Regions from separate parts of the Homo sapiens genome. Here region 1 is linked to region 2. The links come from fine-mapping of genetic effects on gene expression. A gene starts in region 2. The other region holds a variant in brackets. All regions are shown on one strand. Distances are from middle to middle. Region 1 overlaps COBL (cordon-bleu WH2 repeat protein). Region 2 holds the start of COBL (cordon-bleu WH2 repeat protein).

The links.
Region 1: its variant is fine-mapped to the expression of COBL in blood mononuclear cells (TOPMed, PIP above 0.99).

What each region holds. Positions count from the first base shown.
Region 1 is chr7:51,134,179-51,147,033 of GRCh38, forward strand. COBL (cordon-bleu WH2 repeat protein) reads right to left here. Exons shown (of 13, transcript NM_015198.5): 6 at 1,980-2,153. Among named protein-coding and RNA genes, the nearest start is that of COBL, 180 kb to the right of the region's middle. The variant T/C (reference allele first, on the strand shown) is at 7,078.
Region 2 is chr7:51,310,594-51,323,448 of GRCh38, forward strand. COBL (cordon-bleu WH2 repeat protein) reads right to left here and starts at 6,216. Exons shown (of 13, transcript NM_015198.5): 1 at 6,000-6,216. The coding sequence starts at 6,040. LOC124901633 (a long non-coding RNA gene) reads left to right here and starts at 6,391. Exons shown (of 2, transcript XR_007060324.1): 1 at 6,391-6,631; 2 at 7,454-7,739. RefSeq lists enhancers at 6,474-7,067, 7,068-7,660.

The sequences.
Region 1 (12,855 bases), 180 kb before region 2:
TTTCCAGAAATTAGTAAATAACAAAATACCTTTCAGTTTAAAAAAGCATGTTCATAGCAAATGCTTAAATCTAATCCATATGCCACTCATATGCTTAAAAAGGAAGATGGTTTCCATGAGCCAATTTCTCCACGCATTCTGTGCCAAATAAAACAGATTTCAGCAAAAAGCTTTTACTGCCTCAGAGGAAACTCTGTTCATTCTACAGGGTATAAAGTACTATTTATTTTTCATTCAGAATTCCCAATTCTCTACTTACTGCACATTTTCCCACTCAAGCAGGCTTTATCCACTGTGGGTAAGCACATTAAATGCAGAAAAATACAACATCTCTTCTGGGTGGAAGAAATTTTTAAAATGCTGGTACAGTTCACCATCTACATTTTATCGCATTAACAAAATACAATTCTTATTAAAAGAAAAAAGCTGACATAATATTGATCCTGGAAGTCATACTTTTTATTACTAACTAAAGAAACCTATCCTAAGCCAAAGCAAAAAGATATTCCCAGGGGCATGTAGCTGGGAAAGGCCAATGCTATCAATATGGTCTGCATATTATAAAAAAGTTCAGAATCTACATCCAAGCAAATTAATGAGACACACTGCAGAAAATCAGAAGAAATAGCTTTGTGTTTTCCATTTGCATCATCTTATCATGGATGCATACAACAAAAAGGTACCATTTGTGCCTAAATTTATTTTTATGAAAACACAGCTAATATATCATGAAGAACTCAAAATAAGTCAGTTACATTAGGATATATGTATACATTCCTTTTTTTTTTATTTTTTATTTTTGAGACAGAGTTTCTCTCTTGTCACCCAGGCTAGAGTGCAGTGGCGTGATCTTGGCTCACTGCAACCTCTGCCTCCTGGGTTCAAGCAATTCTCCTGCCTCAGCCTTCTGAGTAGCTGGGACAATAGGCGTGCACCACCATGCCTGGCTAATTTTGTATTTTTAGTAGAGACGGGATTTCACCATGTTGGCCATGGTTGGTCTTGAACTCCTGACCTCAGGTGATCCTCCTGCCTTGGCCTCCCAAAGCGCCGGGATTACAGGCGTGAGCTACTGCACCCGGCCTAGAAAATATTTAAGAGATGCAAAAATAAAAATATTTTCTTTGAAAATGTGTTCCACTACAGGCTTTTCAGATAGATTTTTAGGGATATGAAGGACTAAGGATGGAAGCAGGATGGTCTCTGAGACCCAGGGATAAAGAACAACCATGAAGGAACAGAGATGGATGACCAGAGGACCGACTTGCAAAAATAGATGGACAGACGGACATACCTGGACAGAACGACAAGCAGGCTGATAAGGAAATTACATGACATGTCAGGACCCCGCCATTTGGTATCTGCTGCTATAACTTTTTATCAAGATCCAGGGACCAAGCCTCACATTCAGGAGGCACAGACTTAGTTTTTAGGGTATTTTGAGAGCAAATGAGCAAAAAGGGGCTTTGAACCTAAAGACTAGCAGGGGCGTGACACTCTCAAACTATGCAACTGGGCTAGGCCACATGACACATGCGGCAAGAGTTAGGAAATAAAGTTCTGCCACAGAATGAATGGACTCTGAATTTGCTTTCTGTAAATGTTGGCATTTGTGGCATGCTGCCTCCACAGGAAGCTGGGATGCAGTCAGTCAGAAAAATCTCAGTCCAGGGAAGAAGACTGCATCCTTATCTTTACAGCTGCATGGTGGATCTGACATATTAGGGTATGTGGGGAGCAGGACTGGGCTGCTGGGTGTATCCTGACTGCCTTGGGGAACTCAGCTTCTCAGAGTTAAAATCATGAGCCCTTCCTGGCATCTTGCCTTTACTTTTAAATAAAGCTTAAATACTTGCCCCCAACACTCCAGTCGCTACAGCCACAAACATGAAGGATTACTGTGTTCCCAGGGAGCTTTGGAACAATCAACTGTGTCACTGAAAAGATGCTTTGGTTGTGAGAACAGCCCACTGCCCTACCTTTTCCGATGCCTTGTCTTGCACAGGTGGCCCTGAACCTGGAGGAGGAGGGGCTCGGCGCTTCTTCATCTCCGACTTCACGGACACCCCTGAGATGCTGCCCAGCGAGAGGGATGGACCCAGCGTAAGAGAACGTGAGTGCATGGATGGGGAGTTGGGGGTCGTTAAACAGCCCTGTTGGGGAAGAGACAAACAGAAAACCAAATCAGTATGAGATGACTTCTCCCCGTATGAATGCTCACATGAAGACAAAGTTCCAATCCGTCCACCTGAGCTTGAACGGCAGCTGTTTCTACAGTCAGCTTGAATGGTCTGAGCAAGCCCTGCCTGTAGCTTTCCAGGGAAAACTGGAGAAGATGCTGCAGGACAGACTCATGCTGTGAGGCTCCCTTTCTTAATCATGAAGGCCATGGCAGACTCTTTAAGCCATTAAGAGAACACTTAGCAGCTAGAATCATTTAAACTTCTTGACCAACCTGCAGGTGTGAACTGGCCTCCTTAAAACTTTAACCCATTGTCAGAATGAGCTCTTAGACACTAAAAAGAGGAAGGAACTGATCAAGAAATACATCTTCATGAGGAAGACACCAACAGTCTTGGTCATCTTGGGAAGTACTCCACTTGTTGCCAGGAGGGGGCTTATGTTTCTTCTAATTTTCAGAAGTTATGAAAACTGACAATGTGGTATAAGCAGTATGCTGTGAAGACTGTCTAGGACCATCAGTACCGTACTTAGTGACAGATACCCAATAAGCTGAAAGAAATACAAGCCAACACACTAATTGCTCTCAAGGGACAATTTCTACACCAGGCGGAGCAGGCTACAGGACACACAAACTTTTTGAATCTTTTTTCTCCCTAAGGTCTGCTTAATAGAATCATGTAAGTGCTAGTGCAGAAAGCATTCGGGGAACCAGCAGAACCAGCACTCTAACTTCAAACTGAAAACAAGATGGTACCATGCTGTGTCCTGGTGCCTCTTCTCTCCTAGCCCTGGCAGATCTTCCACCTGTTACCATGGACACAGTCAACACTGAGAGCCAATGCAGTATAGGGGTTAAGCCCACAGACCTTGGAGACACTACCTGGGTTTGATTCCTTCTTTTGACCTTAGACGAGGTATTTTTTGGTGTCAGGAGTAAGATACAAACCTTGGGCAAATTTTTAATTTCTCCCTACCCCAGTTTATCTCCTGTAAAACTGGGGTAAATAATAGTTCCTGCATTACAAAGCTATCATGTGAATCAAATGAGTGACTGGATGTAAAAGAGCTTGAAAGAGTTCTTGGCACATTGGCTGGGTGTGGTCATGCTCACCTTTAGTGCTAGCTACTTGGGATGCTAAGGTGGGAGGATCTCTTGAGCCTGAGTTTGAGGCTGTAGTGAGCCATGCTGGTGTCATTGGAAGACAGAGTGAGATCCCACTTCTTTAAAAAAAAAAAAAGGAGTTCTTGGCACAAAGTAAGTACCCAATATGTGTTAGCTATTATGATTATTACACTTGCTTGTTTGTATCTTTGTCTCCCATTAAGATGTGAACTCAATGAAGACAGTAATTATCACTGATTTTTACTGAGAACTGTATGTAATCCCAGCTCCAAACAGTTCCTGGTAGGTGGAGGGCCCTTCAGTCAACCTTCCTGAGACAATGAATAGACAGATGACCCTCTGGGTCACTATGCTTTCATATTTTACATAATAAGCTTGTGGGTAAGATTTCATTTGAACAACTAGTTCTCCATATTTAAAATGAAGATATAAAGGAAATCCATCATATTAAACAATAGCCCAGTATTATTTGTGCTCAGACACAAATGCTGTTGCTCTACCAGTTATACTATCATTTGTTTTCCTGAAAAAAAATTGAGTCACAGATTTTCTTGTGCTTAAATATTAAAGCCAAAGGACAAAGCACTCCATGAAGGCTGCTTTTTACGCCATTAGTGCTTCCCTGCAGACACTGAATATCAACGATGCCCGATGCTTTGGCTATCAGGTGCAGAGTTCCCATAGGAAACAGGTGACGGTGATATAACAGAAAAGAAACTAACACCCAGAACACTCGTCAATGCCTATTTAGGCTCCTACAGAAAAATGTAAATTGTTCCCTTGAGTCCTTGAGTTCTGCAGCCATCATAGTCATTACTAAGCAAATAAGCCATGCAAAATAAACTCTGCCTTACATCCACCTCCATGGCAACAGGGAGGACTCAGGGAGATGCAACTCAAGATTTATTTAACCCTGCAGGATCTAGAAGACTAAATGAAGCACAGGAAGCAAACCAGAGAAGGGATTTTGCTATTCACAGTTCTGGAGCTGGAAAGGTGTTTTGCTGGATGGCTGGTTTGTACAAACACCCCCAGATCCAGGGGGAATGCAAACCCCATCTTTCCTCATCAGTAGTCACTTAGCATATGGCCAGAGCATGGACACTGGGACCTTCCACACTGTTCTGTTTCCTCATCCATAACGTCTGCTGACAGTGACTGCACATGCACACACTCACGCACATGTGCACACACTCACAAACGTGCACTCACACATGTGAACACACATTTTGGAGGATGCTTAAAGCTGTGGTAGTCAAAGAACTACACACCTGTACCCATGCCACCTGCTATCTCTAAAGCACACATGCCCCATCTGACGTCCCAGAAACACGATGTCCATGGCAGTGCATTCCACAACCACATATCTAATTGCTTGTCTTCATTCCACCCTGTCTAGACATGGAACTCCCAGTTCCTCTTGTCCTCGGTCCTCACCACAACTATGCCTGCCTGACTGATCAATCAATACTGCTGTGAATCCACCTCTGTCCTGTAAGTGCCCTGAGCACTTAAGGAAGGTCTGTGCAGAATACTCCCTTAAAAGAACTTTACAGCCCCCTTCCATTTCATATTGATTTCAGGTTTTAATTCATAATTTTTTTTGCTGTCATAAGCATCCTGGACATTTTGCATTATCTATTTTTTAAGGTAAGGAATGGGAATAGACCCCATAAAGTAGGTACATCCCCATCTTTAAAATGGGGAAAAATCCATTTCCTTCAAAGTTGTTACAAGCATTAAATGAAGTAATTTAGATAAAGCACATTAGAAGTGTCTAATATATGTGGTTTCCTTCTTCTCTGATACCTATTTTGGGTGGCCATGACCTCATGAGGGCCACACTGAGATGACCTTGAATGGCAGAAAGTCAGAAGGCGGAAGTGCACCCCATCCCAGTCCTCCTAGAAGTTCTGATATTGATTATCTTCAGACAATGGGCTCCTCATGAGGCCTTCATCTGTGACTCTGGAACTTAACTGAATTTCAATAGAACAGATGATTTTTCTCCCCTAATTTGCTCTACACAATTAACAAATATCTCTTCCCACCTCCCACAATGCTCCCAAGGAGGTCGATTGCAGGGTCCAGTGGTCCTGAGCCACCAGACCCTCTTCTCAGTTCTGCTACTCAACAGTGTTTCTCAACCTTCAACCCATGGGAAGCCAAAAACTTTATGTTGTCCAGCGAATACTTGTGCTTCATTTCTATCTTCTTTCCCTACTTTTGGAATTTGTGCGCAGAATTTAGAAAGCAATCCACAGAATAATGTGGGAGGAAAACATTGTGAAGTATTGAGTCCTTTAAAGTCCTGACTCATATCAATACGAAGTCAAAGGGAAAACCAAGAGCTTAATGCATGCAGTCTGGAGTCAAAACAGCTTGGCCCCCCCTATTATCCCAGTTTCCTTGGTTGTCTCCTGCTACAAAGTGGCAAAGTTCATGAGGGACAGGCCACTGCTTGCCTGCAAGAGAGGTTTGATTTCCTGTCCAAGCTTGTCAATATATACATGTTTTTAATATCAAGTTCTTTTTTTGTAGGGAAGTGAGTCATAGCTCTCACCAAAGGTTGGCACCAAAATCCACAGATGTTGGCAGTCATGATCTTATCAAATTTTCTCAGGAGTTGCAAGTGCAACCAGATAAATCATTAAGAAAAAGCAATGAATAACAGAAAAGAAAACTAAGCAAACAGAACCTTCTATCTCAGGCTTCATGGGACTTAGGTTGGTGGGATTTAAACTTCCTCCAGGCCAGCTGCTGTCATTCAATGGATAGTCGAATTCAATGGCGCCCACCAAAGACAATGCAAAACTCTCTGTGTCCATGTCACCACACCACTGATAGCCAATTAACTCCTTACATTCAGTGTAAAACATCAGTGATTTGACTCTCATACGCGCATCTGGGGAGAGAAGACAGGAAGAAGAGGAAGCTAACCGTTTCCAGATCTGAGTGCCAGCTCAAAATAAAACCAGTATCATCTGCCACAAGTGCTTTTGACATGGGTCCTAATTTTAAATTTACACACACACAAACATTTATGTATGCATGGGTGTGTGTGTGCGTATATATATATGTACATATTTGATTGCTTCTGTTTAAAATGTACTCATCTCAGCAAAGCTTATTTTCCTTTTATTTGACTTTCATTGTGACGACAAAACACTACTCCACTGACAGGGACAAGGAGCTATGCAGATCTAGCACCAGGCAGCAGGGGCACGGCCCTGACAGCACAAGTGCCCCATAGAACCTGATAGGGCACTGAGAGTGCAGGGTGTTCCTGGAATACTTTCAGGGCTCACAGGTACCGCAGAGAACACGTTGTCTCCCTCGCTCATTGACTTATAATTGATCAGAGATCAGTACCAGACAAGAAGCTGAGCATGTTCAACGTAAACATCCCTATTTCGAGTCAGCACAGACTGCCATGGTCCATTTCCCTTTGCCAAAATTCTTGAAGATATCCTCACAGAGCTGCCTCACGAGCACACCCATCACACAGCCTAAGATGGATCAATCTGTTCATACAACAAAAAGGGGCTTGGTGTACTTCAACCCCTTACTGTACTGCACAATACACTTCCAGGGACAAACAGGAGATGCTGTACCTGAAATCTTTCTGTTTAAATCGATTTAAAAAAAAAAAAAGAGAAATGGTCATTTTGTTTCCATTTCTCAAAGGTGTCCATCCTACAAATACAATTATACCTTGACTCATTTAATCAAGTCTACTAAAAGCCTGAGTAGATCTTTTGACATGGCTA[T/C]TGAGGAATTCAGATGTTGATTTCTGTTTCAAGGTTAAGGGATATGTTTTGGTTACAATAAGTATACTCTGAGCTGGCAATCAACAATCCTCTCAGCAGAGGCTCTTCTAAATGGGATCAGATCCTCTTAGAAGGACATGATGTTTGCTGTTTTGATGGTGAGAAAAACTGAGGCCCAGACAGAGCTACTCAAGATGGCTCTGTGCCCTAGTGATATAATAAATTAGAAAAACTGAGGCCCAGACAGAGCTACTCAGGATGGCTCAGCTCCCTAGTGATAGAATAAACTAGAAAGATGAAACTAGAAATATGTTCCTGTTGCTGCCTGCAGCCTCCTCTCCTTAGACGATGCTGCCCCCTTTTGAAAGGCTTTACAACTTTTTTTTTTTTTTTTAAGGCTTTGTTAAAGAATCGAGTGGGAGGGAAGATTCCAGAACCTGTTATCCACACTGGCTTTTCTTCAGATACAGGTGTTGACAGGACTCAAGGCAGAACAATGTGACATAAACCAGATGAGGCGAACGGGCACTCCCTGGGGTCTGTTGGGCAGAGCAGCTCAGGTCTGTCAAAGCTCCTGGTGAGGTGAGAATGGGGAGAATGCTGCTTCTCATCTGTGGTGGCTGGCACAGTCTTGGGTAAGGGCAAGGCCAACTTTCCTTCCCAAGAGGGTGTTCTCTGTCTTTGTCTTTGCATTTCCTTATCCTCAGGGCACAGCCTTCCTGACAGACACTCCTTAAGCTGAATCCCTGAGCCAAATCCTGAGCTGTCTTCTGGCATCCTGGAAATCCTGCACTGATTCCGAGGAAGCGGCAAAGAAAGAACCATGAAGCATGCCAGCTTCATGTGAACTGATCACCATGAATGGGCAGGACAATGGAACTTAGGAATCTCATTTCTAGAGGGTGAGGCGAGTAGGAAATGATCGCTCTTTTTTGGCCAAGTACCCCATGGAATGCCTGGGGGATGGCATTTTAAGTATTTAGAAGAAGAAAAGTGGCAGAAGCTATTTGGTCTGGATGCATACTTCAGCCAACAAAATACCGTGTCACACAAGCTCTCTGATGGTTTCTCGCCTGGCAAGACATTTTCTTAAAATGAGCAAACAAAGAGTATCCAACTGGTATTTGATTTTTTTTTTTTTTTTTTTTTTTTGAGACAGAATCTGTCACCCAGGCCGGAGTGCAATGGTGTGGTCTGGGCTCACTGCAACCTCTGCCTCCCTGGTTCAAGGGATTCTCCTGCCTCAGCCTCCTGAGTAACTGGGATTACAGGAGCGTGCCACCACGCCCGGCTAATTTTTGTATTTTTACTAGAGACAGGGTTTTGCCATCTTGGAAAGGCTGGTCTCGAACTGCTGAACTCAAGTGATCCACCCGCCTTGGCCTCCCAAAGTGCTGGGATTGCAGGCATGAGCTACAGCGCCCGAGCTGGTATTTTATTTTCCCTTAACATAACTGGAAGACATGATTGAAGGTGAGCTATCAGACAGTATTTCAGTCTTATGAAGCAGGACCATCTGCCAGGCATTTGAATGTTTAGAATGCTTAACAATGACAATTTCAGAAAGGCAGAAGTTTCTGAAAAGCTTGTAAATTAAAAGGAAATGAGCCCCGGGGTGCTTCAAAGATGGATGACATGCGATGTGTGTCCTCAGGCAGGCAGGATCCTGTGACAGTGGCCACAGCAGACCGCAGAAGCTCATTTCCAGCCAAGCCAGGGGGAGGGAGAGATGCAGTGCATGGTGCAAACTTCATCAGGGCAGGTGGAGGAGGAAAAGTAAGAGGAAGGGCATCAAAGGGGAAGGATAAGGCAAGAGAATGTTATGAAAAGTTAAGTCATAATGTGCAGCATAGTGACTGACCAGAATTAAAAAGCAAGGAGTGGGGGCTTGGCAGCAGCAGAGAAGAGCATCAGGGAAAGGATGTTCACAGGGCATGCCTCAATCTGCATGCGTGTGTGTGTGTCTGTGTGACTGCTTGCGGTCAGATGCGAGATTTCAGCTGAGGCAAACTCAATTAGATACAGTTTCAGGGAAAAATGAGGTTCCAACTTATAAAAATAATACAATCCTAATGAAAAAGGGAAGGTTTTTCCCTCTCAAATGCACATGTAAAATTTGCCATAATTTATGTGGTGACACATTTTGAATAACTGACTTATAAGTTCAGTTTTCTATACTTCATCAAGAGTGATACTTTATGTGTAGCCCTCCTCCAGATAAATGGATTTCTCCAAACGAAACCAAGTATTTCGTGTTAAGTGGGCATTCTGTTAATGAGCATTTTAATAATACCATGGACTAGATCAGGAAAGGAATGAGAAACTCGGCTGTAGATGTGCATGGGGCAGGTCTGGGTGCCGACTGAAAGGGCACCACTACAGGACACAGAAACAAAACAAAAAAGGGAACAATTCCTGTGCAATAAATATGATTGTTTCTAAAACGTGTACCAAATCAGGAAGGCTTCCCTGTAACTCCAGGTAACTGAGTCATGAGTGGAGGAAAAAAGCTGATCAGATTTCTTCCTTGGCAAAACTTCTTTTCAAGAAAAGTAGGATTTATTTTTTAAGAAGCAGGAAAAGTAGCTGTGTGGTTCAAGAGCCTCTCTTCTGGGGGAGCAGACTAATTCTCTGATGCACTGTTTATAATGTTGCCCTCTCTAATCTTCTAAGGGACTTACCATTCATCACTACCTATATGTAGCATGCTATAGAAGAGGGTTAAGAGGGTGGCCACATAATTTATTATCCAAAATAGAACTATTTTTCAAGTGATCTAAAGTAAGCCTAATGGGAAAGAATGCAGTGACATCAGCATTGCTGGGACTGTCCCAGGCTAGCAGAAGTGTGGTCTCTCCACCTGGGCGGCATGTGAGCTGACACCTGCCAGGTGCAAAGAGAACAACTAAGCCGGTTAGGGAGGAAATCTAAACTCCAGGCTCAGAAAATGGTGATAGATTCGTGTGCAGACATGTATTTTACATATATGAACCCACTTGACCCTCATACCAGCTCTATAGGAAGGTAATTACATGGTCCTCATTTCACAGCTAAGGAAACTCAGGTACAGCGAGTTACTGGTTGCCCAAGGTCACACACTAGGAAGTGGTGGAGCCAGACAGGCTGGCTCTGGGGCAGAGGTTCGAAAACTCAGCTGCACGGAACTCCCTGGAGCTTTAATGATGCACACACCCAGGCTGCACACCAATCCAAGCATATCCGAAACCCCGGAGCCAGATCAAGCATTGGCTGTTTTCCTTTTTTAAATTATGATAACAAAATGTGTGTAATAACATAAAATTAACCGTGTTAGCCATTTTAAAGCATACAATCCGTGGTGTTAAGTACATTGACACTATCATCCAGACATCACCACTATCTAGTTTCAGAATGTTTTCATCATCCCAAAAGGAGACCTTGTACCCATTAAGCAGACACTCCCCAATCCCCTTTCCCCACCCCAGTCCTGGACAAACCCCAGTTTGCTTTTAGACTCTATGGATTTACCTGTTCCATATGTTTCATATAAATGAAATCAAACAATATATGATCTTTGTGTTTGGCTTTCACTTAGCATAATGTTTTGAAGGTTTGCTCACATTGCAGCATGCATCAGTATTTCATTCCTTGTTAAGGCCGAATGTTTGATGTATATACCACATTCTTATCCACTCATCTGTTCATGGGCATTAGAATTGTTTCTACTTTTTGGCTACTGTGAACAGAGCTGCTACAAGCATTTGTGTACTATTCACTTGTTTTTAATTCTTTTTTTCTAGACAGAGTCTTGCTCTTGTCGCCCAGGCTGGAGTGCAGTGGTGCGATCTCAGCTTACTGAAACCTCTGCCTCCCAGGTTCAAGCGATTCTCCTGCCTCAGCCTCCTGAGTAGCTGGGATTATAGGTGCCCACCATCACGCCCAACTAATTTTTTGTATTTTCAGTAGAGACAGGGTTTCACCATGTTGGCCAGGCTGGTCTTGAACTCTTGACCTCAAGTGATCAGCCCGCCTCAGCCTCCCAAAGTGCTGGGATCATAGGTGTGAGCCACCATGCCCGGCCTGTTTTTAATTCTTTTGGGTATATTCCTAGGAGAATTGTGGCTCATATGTTATTCCTTTTCTTTTTTTTTTCTTTTTTTTCCGAGATGGAGTGTCACTCCTGTCGCCCAGGCTGGAGTGCAGTGGCACGAACTCAGTTCACTGCAACCTCTACCTCCCGGGTTCAAGCTTCTCCTGCCTCCGCTTCCTGAGTAGCTGGGATTACAGGTACCCGCCACCATGCCCAGCTAATTTTTGTGCTTTTAGTAGAGATGGGGTTTCGCCATGTTGGCTAGGCTGGTGTCAAACTCCTGACCTCAGGTGATCTGCCCACCTCGGCCTCCCAAAGTGCTGGGATAACAGGAGTGAGCCGCCACACCTGGCCTGTTATTCCTCTGTTTAACTTACTGAGGAACAGCCAAAGTGCTTTCCACAGTGGCTGTACCATTTTACATTCTCACCAGCAATGAACAAGGGTTCCAGTTTATCCACGTCCTGGCCAACATTTGTTTTCCTTTTGTTTGAACAGCCGTCTTTCGTGTGTGTGAAGCGGTGTCTCACTATGGTTTTGAACTGCACTTCCCCCACTACTAATGAGGTGGAGGCATCTTTCCGTTTGTTTACTCCCACTAGGCATCTGTGTTTGGGAATCAAGAGTGGGCCCCACCGCTCTCACCTTTGCTCCTGACCATCACAGCACACTGCCCAGGCTGGAGGTGGCTCATTTTTATTCTCTCTTAAGGAACAGTGCCTTAGAGCATCAGCCATCAATATTTTTACTGGCCCCAAGCCCCATGATTTCATATGCATGGGTTTCACATGCAAGGTGCCAGCCTCTGAGCAGCATCTGTGCAAGAGCTGCAACTCCATCCTTCTGTCTTCTTCAAAAAGTGTATCAGAGAGGGAATAATCATGTTTTCCAGGTGAAACTGAATGGCTTTTGTCTGTTTAAGTAAATCACTCACAAATTTGGGTACTCTATTATTAATTAACAAATAATTAATCAGCCCCTCCTTGGGGCTCCCTTGCCACCTCCTTTTAGAATTGCTGCAAAGCATAACGGCTGGTCAAGTGCACATCCCCATGACTGCAGGGAGGGGCTGCCAGGCATACTCATCTCAAGGTCACCCATGAAGTTCACCTTCAAAGCGATCGGCAGTTTCCTTGAGGTTCTCTTGGCAATCTTGTCATTTAACCTCAGTCCTTTCCTATTTTCTAGCATGACCTGTGGGACTCAGATTCTGTAGCGCTTCTGCCATGCCCCACTCCGTTCTCCCATTAAGATATTATCTCTTGTTGGAAATAAAAAGAGGAGACAGAGGAAGGTGACCGCTGTGGAGCTGCTAGTGCAGGAATGTGGGGGCGGGGGGAGGGGGGCAATAGCCCAGATTTCTAGGAAGCTGGGAGAGTTAGAAATAAGGCCTGATGAAGAGCTGTGCATTTTCTCATATAAAGGCAGGTGGTGCAGAGGGGGAGTCGCAAGGAATACGGGATATTCCCTCACTTCTTTCCAACTCAAGATGAGCAGGTCAGAGCAGTCAGGAGGAAAACCCAAGACCTACAAAAGTTACTTAATAGGAGGGCTGTGATCCATTGGGAAGTTGGAGAGCAGATACGGCTGCTGATCCCCTGGCAGCCCCAGGAGGGGTGTGACATTCTCAGCTCCCCACCTTGGGCATGGTGATGGGGAGCCAGCAGGGGGTTGCTCATTAACCTGCAGGAAGTGTTCTGCAGGCCAGG
Region 2 (12,855 bases):
AGAGATGGGATCGACCAGCCAGGACGCGTGACTTACCTGGTTTATCTTTGGAGGGTTGTTTTTGTTTTGTTTGGTTTGGTTTTTTTGAGACAGAGTCTCTTTCTGTCATCAGGTGGAGTGCAGTGGCACAATCTCGGCTCACTGTAACCTCTGCCTCCCGGTTCAAGCGATTCTCCTGCCTCAGCCTCCCAAGTAGCTGGGACTACAGGCATGTGCCACCAGCCCAGCTAATTTTTGTATTTTTAGTAGAGATGGGGTTTCACCATCTTGGCCAGGATGGTCTCGATCTCTTGACCTCGTGATCAACCCACCTCGGCCTCCCAAAGTGCTGGGATTACAGGCGTAAGCCACTGAGCCCGGCCGGTTGTATTTTTTTTTTTTTTAAGGGATAAGGACTTTATTGGTTTCTCTAAATCAATTGATGTCCTTTTTACAGGCATCACTTGGTGTGGTGCAGGTGGGAACTGGATCTACAAAAGTATTTGTACAAAAGTATTTGTGGTCTGGGAATCTGTCTAACCAAATGTATCCAAGAAAAATATACTCTGGCAGTTGCTTAAAAAGCTTTTTCTCTTTTTTAATAGAAATGTTTTTAGCTGGGGGATTACTCTAATTGGACTTGGCCTATAGAAGACAATGCCCTGGCAGGGAGCAGCTCGCCACCTGATGAGGAGAGCAGAGGGAAGCGTGCTAACACCCCAAGAGGCCACAGGGTTTCTCCCTGCTGGGGAAAGCCATCCTTCTCTGGAGGGGCTGGCTCAGAAGCACAGGGATGGCCCTGAGATAGGCAGCAGAAAATACACACACTGTTGGAAACCCATTGTCTATTGTCGCACCAGAGGAGACAGCAAACTCTAGTCTAGAATAAATAGCACTAGGTCTTGAAAGTATTGACCATCCTTAGCTTTGCAAGAAGCAACTAGAATCATATAAAGTATACAAGAGGAAAAAAGTTTTAATTCTATTCCAGCAAGAGACAGATGAAAAATAAGGAATTATGGAACCCTGAAAGAAAAGTGACGTAGGCTTCCCATCAATTCAGAAGCAGAAAGCCAGGGAGTGGCCCTGAAAAATCCAGAAACACTCAAGTGACAAGGTGGAAGCGAGAAAGCAAAGTATAAAATGGGGGAGATGGAAACTAAAATTTACAACTCAAATAAATGAAAATCATAAAAGTGTAAAAAGGCATATTATCAATACATCTCTATGTAGTAATATAAACCAATAACTACAGTATTTTAAATAAAGAAAAAGTACAAAGATGAAGATATGTAAAAGCTTTCAGTGGGTCATGAAATACCAACTTTTTTTCAGCTATAGTATAAGGTAACTGAAAAAAAAAACCACACAATTAAAATTAACCAACGCATAAAACCTTCATAATTAAATGTGGATGGGGAGAGAATGAAGGAATGTACGAAAACACCATATAATAAATACAGGACCTCAGCCGGGGGCAGTGGCTCACACCTGTAATCCCAGCACTTTGGGAGGCCAAGGCGGGCGGATCACAAGGTTAGGAGTTCAAGACCAGCCTGGCCAACATGGTGAAACCTCGTCTCTATTAAAAAAAAAAAAATACAAAAATTAGCTGGGTGTGGTGGTGCACACCTGTAAATCCCAGCTACTCCGGAGGCTGAGGCAGGAGAATCGCTTGAACCGAGGAAGTGGAGGTTGCAGTGAGCTGAGATCGCACCATTGCACTCCAGCCTGGGTGACATGGTGAGATTATGTCCCCCCACCAAAAAAATAAATAAATACAGGAACTCTTAGTGTATTTACAAAGTTCAAGTCTAAATCAGAACCAAGTGTTAGCATATTTCACATTTGTATGTCCTTGATCTAAATATTAATACTACTTTGGTATCAAATATTTATGCTCACTTTTCAAAACTGCAGATCAATTACAAAATTAAATTTAATCATAAATTTATAACAAAGCACAAAAGGCCTAGAAACCTAAACTACTTATTACGGTGTATAGATGCATCCTATAATCATTGTTTTCTTAATAATTACAGGAGCACTTGCGTGGACACAGATTATGACTTCATTCCCTGGATCCCAAATTAAGAAGTCCACAGAATCCAGGCCTGCATATACGTGGGGGCTGTCGCTCTGCCTGGGTCAAGGTTCCACTCAATAATAATCCACTCCACCTGTGCACTGGAGGTCACGAGAAAACACAGGAGGGACTGCAGGCAAAAGTTCCTGGGGGCAGGAGAGATGCAACACTTAACAAATACCTTTGTAACAAATTTTAATCATACTTCAGTTCTATCCCCTTTATAGAACCACTGAGAAATAATAAAAATGCTCTGAGACTATGTGATATTGCAACACAGAAATGTCCAACTCTTCTAATTTATTAGTAAATATTTTAATTACAAAACATTAAAATTCCTAGGCCTACTCTCCACATTACATCAAGCAATTCTTAACTTTTACTTTCTTAAATGAATTGCCAAAATAAAGAGTAGCTCAGAAGTAATATCTTTTAAAAATAATGCTCAAATCTAACGGGAAAAGTTTTATGTAACAGTTCATTATACATGCTCTCATTTGAAAGAATGTAAACACTTTCTCTAACATGTTAGCCAAAAGCCAAAGGCCTAGAAACCTAAGCTTCCTATTATGGTGTAGAGTTAATATTTTCTTAATATCTGCATGCTTATGAGGGTTTCATACAAAATGTCACTGTGGCTGCCCCATGTCACTACCAAGAGTCACAGGCCTTCTACACTTAATACTATGTGCGGCACCGACAGGACTAGAGTAGCTCAAGTTACCCACTTCGATTAATTTTTTAAAATTTCTTTTGGTTCTAATAACTTGATTAAATAAATATAAATTTATGCAAAGAAATGAATAACAGCTATGTGTACATGAAGTCCACATTTTGACGAAACTGATTAGCAAAACTTCCACTGATTTTTACATGAGCAAACTGCTTGAATACAGCCATTGATCAAATGCACCAGCTGTTTTGACATTTCATGTCATTGGAGATTACTGTATTCTACAGAAACATGTCTTTCCTCCATAGGAAAAAAAAAATTAAGCATGGTCCTGCCAAACAGCAAGCCTTCTTCTGTCCTTTATTAACAGAGGGTCCAATGGGAAATTTAGCCCTGTGTTCTGTAACAGCCGACTACTGGGATGGCTCCTATAAATATTCAGACAAACGCAAAGTAAACAGATAAAGTAGAGAGTTAAATATACTTCAAAACCTCACCAAAAGGCAATTTGCCTTTACTTGTGTTCTGAGTATTCTGTCAATTCTTATACTTCAACTGAGCTCTAAAACTCCCTAAAAGTCACATCAAGTCTGACTTGTTAGTTTTTGCACACAGCCTCTTTCCTAAAAGAACACTTTCCCCAGGAGTCAAGGAAGTCATACATCACTGTTTTAATGAAATTCCTAGTAAAAAACATACAATTTCAATCCAAGTAAAAACGTATATTTGTGTTTTTCACAAAGATAACTAATAACTACCTGTTAATAATTTAGCCAGACACAGAGTCAGTGAGTTTACATTCACCAACCTATCTCCCTTCAGTAATCTTCTAGAAGAGCGTTTGTAGGCCACAGGGTGAAATCTCGTTAATTCACTGCACCCAGTCTAGCTTGTTTCTATACAACACAAGGAGGAGTGGTAGTTTCAGCAACAGCAACAGCTTCACCACATCAGTTTGTTATCATGTGGGAAGACAGAGGCTTACTGAAAGTTTGATTTTATAATAAACGGTTGCAGAATCAGATGGAAAACAAATTTCCCTCAAGCACACTGCAAACACTGCCTTAATCTCAGGGAACAGAGGAGTAATCTCAGTGAAGAGCCAACAGAATCTGCCTGCCACCAATAATGTACTAAAGCCACAAATTTCACAGCAATATCTAACCTTTATAATTAGCAAGCATACACCTAAATTATATAAAATATTCGAAGACCTAACACCATTTATCTCCTCAGATTTGAACACAAAATTGCTTATTAAACACGTAATTCTTGTCTGAAAAAATATAAGGATATTAACATTTTCTTGATGCTTCTTCACTGAAAGTATTAACAAATGACAAAGTGAGAACAATAGAAGTTAAAAATAATATGTCTACATTTCTTGGACAAAGATGTTCGGACAAGTAAATTAGACACTGGATATGAGTGAGGGAAAGAACTGAATGCATCAGGAATAATTTCATGTTTTCCATAGCAAAAATCCTTAGTTTTACTTTGCAATTCAAATATGAAAGCCAATCAGAGCTCTGGGAAGCCCTGAGAAGGCCAGCCCTCGACTACCTCTTGCCACACAGTACCAGGCTGAAAAGAGTGCCACGCTCTTAGGGTAAGTCCTTTCACTTCTATCATTAGACTCCCTTCAAGGATCTTACAGATACTCTTTGGATACAGTTTTGCCGGCCTTTTAAATGTTCTCTCTGTCTTCATATTTATTTATAAGGTGATAGTGACAAAATAATTCAGTGTCCTTAAATAGGCTCATTTAATAGGCTATGAAAGCCACAGATTTAAAGATACCTCTGTTTCACATTTCCCTGTTATTTTGGGATGCCTATTACCATGAAAAAGGATTTCCCACATTTACTTTCTTTCTGGGGAATTTGTTTGTTCAAAGAGAATTATATAACCACCAGTAAGTGCACTGCAAAAAAAAAAAAAGAGAGAGAGAAAGAAAACTTCTTTTTAACATTCCTCAGCTTCAGGATTATTTGATTTGCTAACCTGGCTCACCTTTTCCTGGCATTAAAGGAAAACTTTAAAATTTTAAAAAGAGCCCGACTGAAAGTCTTTTACACACTTGGGCAACACGCCCGCCTATGGGCACATGGGCAGGGTGAGTCAGTGGGACACAACTGTAACAGAAAAAAAGATTTGTTGTCCCCAAAGCTGCCTCCTTCAAGTCCAGTTGCCATAGCAGAAAGTGGGCCCATTCAGTAAGCAGGTGCAGGGCTCACCCCAACCCTCATTCCATTTGCAAGACTCATACACATTTGCTCCAGGCGAGCGAGCGAGTTCGAAGGTCCCCGGCGCGCCGCGCTGAAAACTACAAAGTCCACCGGGACTGCGCGCTACCCCGCGGCCCAGCCTGCACCGCTGGCCGGGATGAGCACGGCGCACCTGGCTCGGGGTCTGAATAATGAGCAGGGCTGCTCGTCCTGTTTGAGGGAAATTACTCTTTCTGAGAGTCAAATCCTGAATGTGACGTGTAATCCCTGCACGCAAGGTGTGGGGATAGCAAACAGAAACCGGGAGAGGTTTGGGCAAAAGCGGAATCGCGAAGACAGGGATGGGCCGCCAGACTCGCGGGTCCGCTACGGATGTCTGCGCCTCAGGCCTGGCCCCACTAGGACGCCCCTTCCACTGCCAGGGGAGACCCTGGAATAAAGGCAGGGAGGGAGAGCTGCTGCCATGAAACCCTCCGGGCAATCCGAACACCTTCCGAGAACGCGGGGCCCGGGCGGCTGCGAAGCCGGGGAGCCCTCCCCTCCACGCTGCCGGGAGAGCCGATCCTGGGGCTGCCGCCGAGGCCGGGAGAGGGAAGACTTGATGGGAACCGGCCAGGGGCAAGCCCGCAGGGAAGAGGCCGGAGTCAAAGGCCGGGCGTCCCCTCGCTCCCCGCTCCACCCCTACGGCAAACACTTGGGGGGCCTGAGGAAAGCTCGGAGCTGAGTGGGGGCTGTGCTGGCGGGGACCCCCATAAGGACGCCTGCATACAAACCACCCCGCGCGAAAAGTGCGCTCCGGCCCCGGCCCGACACGGTTACCTGGGCAACGACCCGGGTGCCCAAAGTACACAGCACGCACCACCACCCAACACCAGCACCCAACACCAGCACCGCACCACCTGCTCCACCACTACCACCAGCACCCGCTGGGGCGGCAGAGAGGGCGCCCTGCCCGGGAGCGCGCGGTGCGGACGCGGGCGTCCGAGCCCAGGGAAGCCCCCTCTCCACCCCGCCCGACCGCGGGGCCGCTTACCCGGTCGGGGGCTTGGCCGCCGAGGCGCGCGGCGCGTCCATGGTGCCGGGGGCCGGGACGCGGGCGGTGCTCCGGGCCCGCCGAGTCAGGCGCTGGCTACCGCCGCCACCGCTGCCGCCCTCATTCACTTTTTCCGCGCTGACCCATCGTCCTCCCACGCGGGCCGGCGGAGGACAGCGGCGGAGCGCGGCGGACGGAAGGGGCTGGAATCGTCTCTAGCGGGCGGGGGCGCCGGGAGCGCAGGGAGGGGCTGGCGGCGGCGCGGGGCGGGGGCGCCGGGAGCAAGGTGCGCCGCGCCCCCGCCCCGGCTGCTCTGCCGCGCCCACCGGAGCGCCGCCCCCGCCCCGCCCCGCCCCGCCTGCTCAGAGTCCCGACCCGGCCCGCGGCGAGCGTCCGGGGAAGGAATCCTCCGGCACCTGGGCCCTGCACCGACACCCGCGGGTGCGGCAGAGGGCTTCTCCCCGTGCTCCTCCACCCCTGGGGGGAGCGCGACCCTCTCTGGGCGGAGTGGGGGATCCCGGGGCCGGCGCCTCCTGGCGGAGTTGGGGGAGGGGAACCACCTGGAGCCTGGAGGCCGTGCGAGGGCGAGGTGGGCGGACCAGCCCGGGAGGACTGACGTTGGAGGGTGAGAAGTGAGTGTCCGGCACCGCTCTCTGACCTTTATCCGTGCAGCAAATGTCTAGTGCGTAGGGTCGCAAAGTGGGAGTCCCGACCGGGAGCGTCAGGAACACCTGGGAACTTGTTAGAAATGCAGATTTCTGGGGCCCACCAGGTCCCACGGAATCAGAAACAGTGCGGGCTGGAGCGCGGCCTCGCTTTGCTAACAACTCACTCGCTCTAGGTGAATGCTCGCTTAAGTTTGCCAACCTGATTCACTGGGCGCTACTGTGGCACAACCCTGCCACTCCAGTGCGGGCTGGCGGGCAGATATGCAGGTCCTGCCGGCCACGCCGGGGCCCAGAGCAAGTCAGCCAGAGGTCCCTTATCTGCCCAACTTCACCTCCACTCTCTAAGATCTTGGTTGGTATGATGGGCTGACCTATAAAAGTGGCAGTTTCATATGGTTTCAATGACTCGAATAAAAGACCAACAAGAGGCCAGATCGGGCGAGCCTGATAGCGTTGGGGGTGACGCTCCCCTTGCGATCTTGTCATTGGATGAGGTATCCAGAGGCCTGCGCAGCCTTCCTCCCTCTGATCCCCTGCTTTCTCATTAACTGAAGGGGGGGCAGACCAGTCTATATGCAAAATGTGAGTCCTTACTCGTGGCTGGCAGATCTTGGGTGCTCCCTGCTCCCACCTAGAAGGTTTCCTAAGTCCCCAGGTGGCCCTGGGGCTCACTTCCCTGCAGCCCAGCCTCCCATGAGTGGAGCGCTTTCCCGGCTCAGGGCCTCTGGCTGGGATGCTGCTCCACAGTGCTCTTCCTCCTCCTTTTCATCCCGTGGTCTCCCCAAGGAGCCTTTCCTGGCCTCTCTGTCTAAAAGCACCCTGCGGAGCACAGTGGCTTACACCTGTAACCTCAGCACTCAGGGAAGCCAAGGCCGGAGGAGCAGTTGAGCTCAGGAGTCGGAGACCAGCCTGTGCAACCTGGGAGAACTTTCTACAAAATAAAAAAATTAGCGGAGCATGGTGGCACACACCTGTAATCCCAGCTACGGGGCGGGGCGGCGAGTGGGGAGCAGGCTGGACAATGGAGTGAGATCCTGTCTTAAAACACAAAATAAAAGCAGCTCTCACTCAAGCTCCTGACTGCTGCCTTGTCCTAATTTTCTTCTGAGCATTTGTCACTGTATGTGTGTGTGTATGTGTGTATGTGTATATATATATGTGTGTGTGTATATGTGTATGTGTGTATATATGTGTGTGTTTATATTTAAATGTAAGTTTATAAAGAAATGTTTACATGTAATGTGTTATATTTATAGACATGTTTATATGAATGCATAAAATTTGTATTTATGTAAACTTATAAATATGTATATACATTATATATAAATGGAATAAAAAACATAAATAACATATCCTATTCCGCATATATTTTGCTCATGTGTTTGCCATTGGTCTCCTCCCTAGCATGTGATCTTAGCAAGCGCTGGGCCTTTGTCTGATTTATCACCCCCAGCATCTAGGGCAGTGCCTAGCAGGGTGGAGTCAGTGCTCAGTAAACAAAGGGTGCACTGAATGAATGAATCTCTTCTTGCACCTTGGGTGTGGGTATTAGAGAGTCTCTCCCAAAATCTGGGGAGCCCCTCCTTGCTCTGGACACCACCATGGGAAGGGCTGCCCAGGAGGGGCCAGAGCTGAAAACTAGACTAGGCACTGTGAGCCAGACCCCATTGAAATCCCTAAGGAGAAGTCCACCTCACAGGTGACACATACTCCAAGCACCTGGCAGAGGCAGCAAGAGGAAGTATGGTGGGGACATGGAGCAAAAGAAGCCCGGAGTGACCCAGTGTCTCAGATGCTGAGCACAGATGGCAACAGGAAGCCCGAAGCAGGTGGATGGTGAAGAGTAAGAGAGCTCCTCAACATCCAGAAAAACAATGAGAAGGAGGTGACGTGCCACCTCCAGGCCAAGATGCAACTTGCTGTTCTAGGAAAAAGGCCCAGGTGACCCTAGGCCTGGACAACCTCAGATCCTTGGAAGGCCCCCAGACATCTACTCAGAAACCCAACAGGGACCAGTTTCCAGAAATGAAGTGGAGGGTTAAGCCTGGTTAGAGCTGTCAGGATGAGACACAGAGTAAAGGTCAGACTTCTGCCAGAGGGAGGAGCTTCACGCTGTGACCCAGGGCCTGCAATCTAAATGGGCCAGGACTGCCGATCACTTGTGTCAACTGTGGGGAGGGGCACAGAGCCTGGGGGGGCAGGCGGGGCCTAGGACCTGATCAGATTCTGTGCATATTGCCACCCACACTTCCCTGACTGATAAGGGCCCCAAGAGATGCAACTGTGGGGAGTTGTTTTCCAAAATTGTATAGTTCAACAGATATTTCTGAGCATCTACTGTATGCCAGCCTTTGTCTGCGGTGTGGATGTGGCCACCTCATAGGGAGGGCTAGGCAAGGAAATCAGTAACAGACAGGGCTGAGCTCTTCCAGACAGACAGTGAGAAAGAGGAATAGGTGATGGGCTGAAAGCAAAGGGCTGAGTGGGGCCTTGTAGAGGATGTCACCAAGATCAGCCTACCACTTGTCACTGAGCAGAACGCACTCCTTCCTGTGCTTACTGACTTCAGCAGAGCAAATGGCACAATCACACGCTAGGGAAACTCAAAGGGAAAGGTGTTCTTTATGGACTCTTTCCTGCACATGCTTTTAAATGTCCTTATTAAAACTGTCACTTTTTTTTTTTTTTTTTTGAGAGGGAGTCGTTCTGTTGCCCAGGCTGGAGTGCGATGGCGCAATCTCGGCTCACTGCAACCTCCACCTCTCATGTTCTAGCGATTCTCCTGCCTCAGCCTCTCAAGTAGCCAGGATTACAGGCGCCTGCCACCACGCCCGGCTAATTTTTTGTATTTTTATTAGAGATGGGGTTTCACCCTGTTGGCCAGGCTGATCTCAAACTCCTGACCTCAAGTGATCTGCCCACCTCAGCCTCCCAAAGTGCTGAGATTACAGGCATGAGCAACCACACTCAGCCACTTTTTCAGATGTCGACCATCACTAAATCATCTATATTTTATAGTGTGGCAAACATCCAGGGATGTGCTGATAAATGCTTACAAATGATATTTTTAAATTTTTTTAAAAAGAGCCCCTATTTGTAGCATTTGCCAGTTTTTGTAGTGTAAACGCACCTTGGCAGATTTCAAGCTAGGGTGTTGTAAAGTCACTGAACAGGGAGTTACAGAAGATGCAGCAAGACCGCAACTCTCCATGATTTGCCTTCCCACATGCGTGAAAGCAGAACCTTTGCCCCTTCATCCACAGAGCATGGCTGAGTGCTGCTCTTTGTCCCAGGACACCATGCTTGTGTCCTGATATGGGCTGTAATGGGTGCCCTTGGCTATAGCTCTGGACTACAGTGGCATCAGCTCTTGCCCCAAGCAGTAGGAGCTACCCTGAGACCAGGGTGTAAGGCTACTTGAAGGACATTCTCTCCTTGGTCTAACCCCATCCCCCTTCTTTGCTCCTAACTCTCCTCCCAGGCACACCTGGGGTCTCAACAGCCCCCATCGGCGTACACTCAGCTCTCCATGACTCGAGGTGGGTGCCTGCAGTCACACCAGCTGCTCTTTCTGGAGGGAAAATGAAAGGAAGAAAGCACATCAAAGACACAGATGGAAGCAGTCCAGTTTAAAGCAGGGCTTCGTAAACGTGGATACTTCTTGGGATGTTATTAAGATTTAGTTCGTGATGCAGTGAGTCTGGCTGGGACCTGAGAGTCTATGTTTCTAACAAGCTCCCAGGGAAGTGGAGACTGCTGGCCCAGGGAGCACGCTTTGAGTAGCGAGGGTTTAGGGTCAAACACAGTGAGCATCTTCGGGCCTGATCTTCCACTCACTGGTGGTATTGCCGAGAGCAAATTACTTCTCTCTAGGCTTTAGTGTCCTCCTCTCTAAAATGAGAATATTCAGGGGTGGATCCAGATTTCAAAGGGCCTGAATCTTACAAAATTGTAAGGACCTTTTAAATAAATAAAGCATACCATATGATTAATGCAAATTTAGATACCAAAAGGATCTTTATTTTGAATGTGTTATGGACCGAATTGTTTCCCCTCAAAATTCATAAGTTGAATATAACTGTAATTAGAGTAGAAACTGTCACTGTAACCAGTGTAAGGGTAATTACAGATAGAAACTTAGAAAAGTGAGTAAGTTTAAGTGAGGTCATAAGGGTGGGGGGGCCCTGATCCTATAGGGCTGGTGTCTTTATTGGGAGAGGAAAAGACAACAGAGCTCTCTCTCTTTCTTCACCAACCGCAGTGGCACCTTGATCATGGACTTCCAGCCTCTAGAACTGTGAGAAAATGAATTTTTGTTGTTTAAGCCGCGCAGTCTGTGATATTTTGTTATGGCAGCCCATGCAGTCTAACACAGATTTAGAAACTAAACCATTATGGATGCAACTTTTTTTTGTTTTGTTTTGTTTTGTTTTTGAGATGGTGTCTCACTCTTTCGCCCAGGCTGGAGTGAAGTGGCATGATCTCGGCTCACTGCAACCTCCACCCACCAGGTTCAAACAATTCTCCTGTCTCAGCCTCCCGAGTAGCTGGGACTACAGGCATTCACCACCATGACAGGCTAATTTTTTTTTGTATTTTTAGTAGAGACAGGGTTTTGCCATGTTGGCCAGGCTGGTCTTGAACTCCTGACCTCAGGTGATCCACCCGCCTCAGCCTCCCAAAGTGCTAGGATTACAGCGTGAGCCACCGTGCCTGGCCAGTTGCAACTTTTCAAAGCTGACTTTACTACAACAAGTGAGCAAGTGATGGCATAACAGTAGTTCTGCCTTCCGGGGGTAAGAATAGTGCCTACTCACCAGGCCCAGGGGGAGGATTACACGGGATAAAGTGTGCAAATTTCTTGCGGTGGTACCTGACACTGGTAAGCAATCAATCCACATAACTCTTACTATTCAGACTTGTTCACTTGCTTTTGGTGCATAGTTCCCTGCACAACCATGCAGCTAGAGTCCTGGCCCCTTGAAAAGAACTTAAAGCAGAAACAAGAGCCAAACACCCGTCATTGCGCTCTGGCAGGTGTACATGTCACCTGAGCTGGGCCAAGGTGGTGCGGGGGGGCGGCTGGGGGTGCTGTTTTTGGGAATGGGAGAGTCATGCATCCAAAGTCCTCTTCTCCAGCCAGTGTGCTGCAGTACTCGAGTCAACCTCAGCTCTAGAAACCCTTCCCTCTGTTTCCTAAAACCCCCGGGAAAAATGTAAATTCTCCAGCAGAAGACACTGCTCGGCATTTTATGGAGCTGTGGCTGTGGACAAGCGAAAGAGCTTGGGTCTGTAGTGAGGAGCTGTTGAATTTAGGCCAAGGAGACCCTTGAGAAAAGGTTTGGGGCCCCACAAGTCCAGCCTTCCACTCTCCCCATTACATTCTCAAGTTTGCATTAAGGCGAGAATTGAATAACTTTCTTTTCAGGATGGTACATTATTAAACAGGACATATTTTACATGGGGTCATTAACTAACAATAGTAACTCAAAGAAATATTTATGTAGAGTGCTTTCTTTTTTTCTTTTCTTTTTTTTATTTTTTGAGACCAATTCTCACTCTTTCGCCAGGCCAGAGTGCAGTGGCGCAATCTCATCTCACTGCAACCTCTGCCTCCTGGGTTCAAGCGACTCTCCTGCCTCAGCCTCCCGAGTAGGGAGTAGCTGGGACTACAGGCGCCCGCCACTATGCCCTGCTAATTTTTTGTATTTTTAGTAGAGACGTGTTTTCACCATGTTGGCCAGGCTGGTCTCCAACTCCTGACCTCATAATTCGCTCTCCTCGGCCTCCCAAAATGCTGGGATTACAGATGTGAGCCACCGCACCCTGCCTGATTGCTTTCTTTTTATCAATATATAATTCACATACCATCAAATTCACCTCTCTCAATTCAGTGGTTTTTAGTACATAGAGTTGTGCAACCATTACCATTGTCTAATTTCAGTACATTCGCATCCCCCCAAAATAAACCCTGTGTCCATTAGCATCCACTCCCCATCCTTCCACTCCCTGAAACCACGATTTACTTTATGTCTCTATGGATTCACCTACTATGGTCATTTCATATAAATGGAATCACACAATATGTGGCCTTTTATGACTGGCTGCTTTTTCTTTTTTCTTTTCTTTTCTTTTTTTTTTTTTTTAATTGAGACAGAGTCTCGCTCTGTTGCCCAGACTGGAGTGCA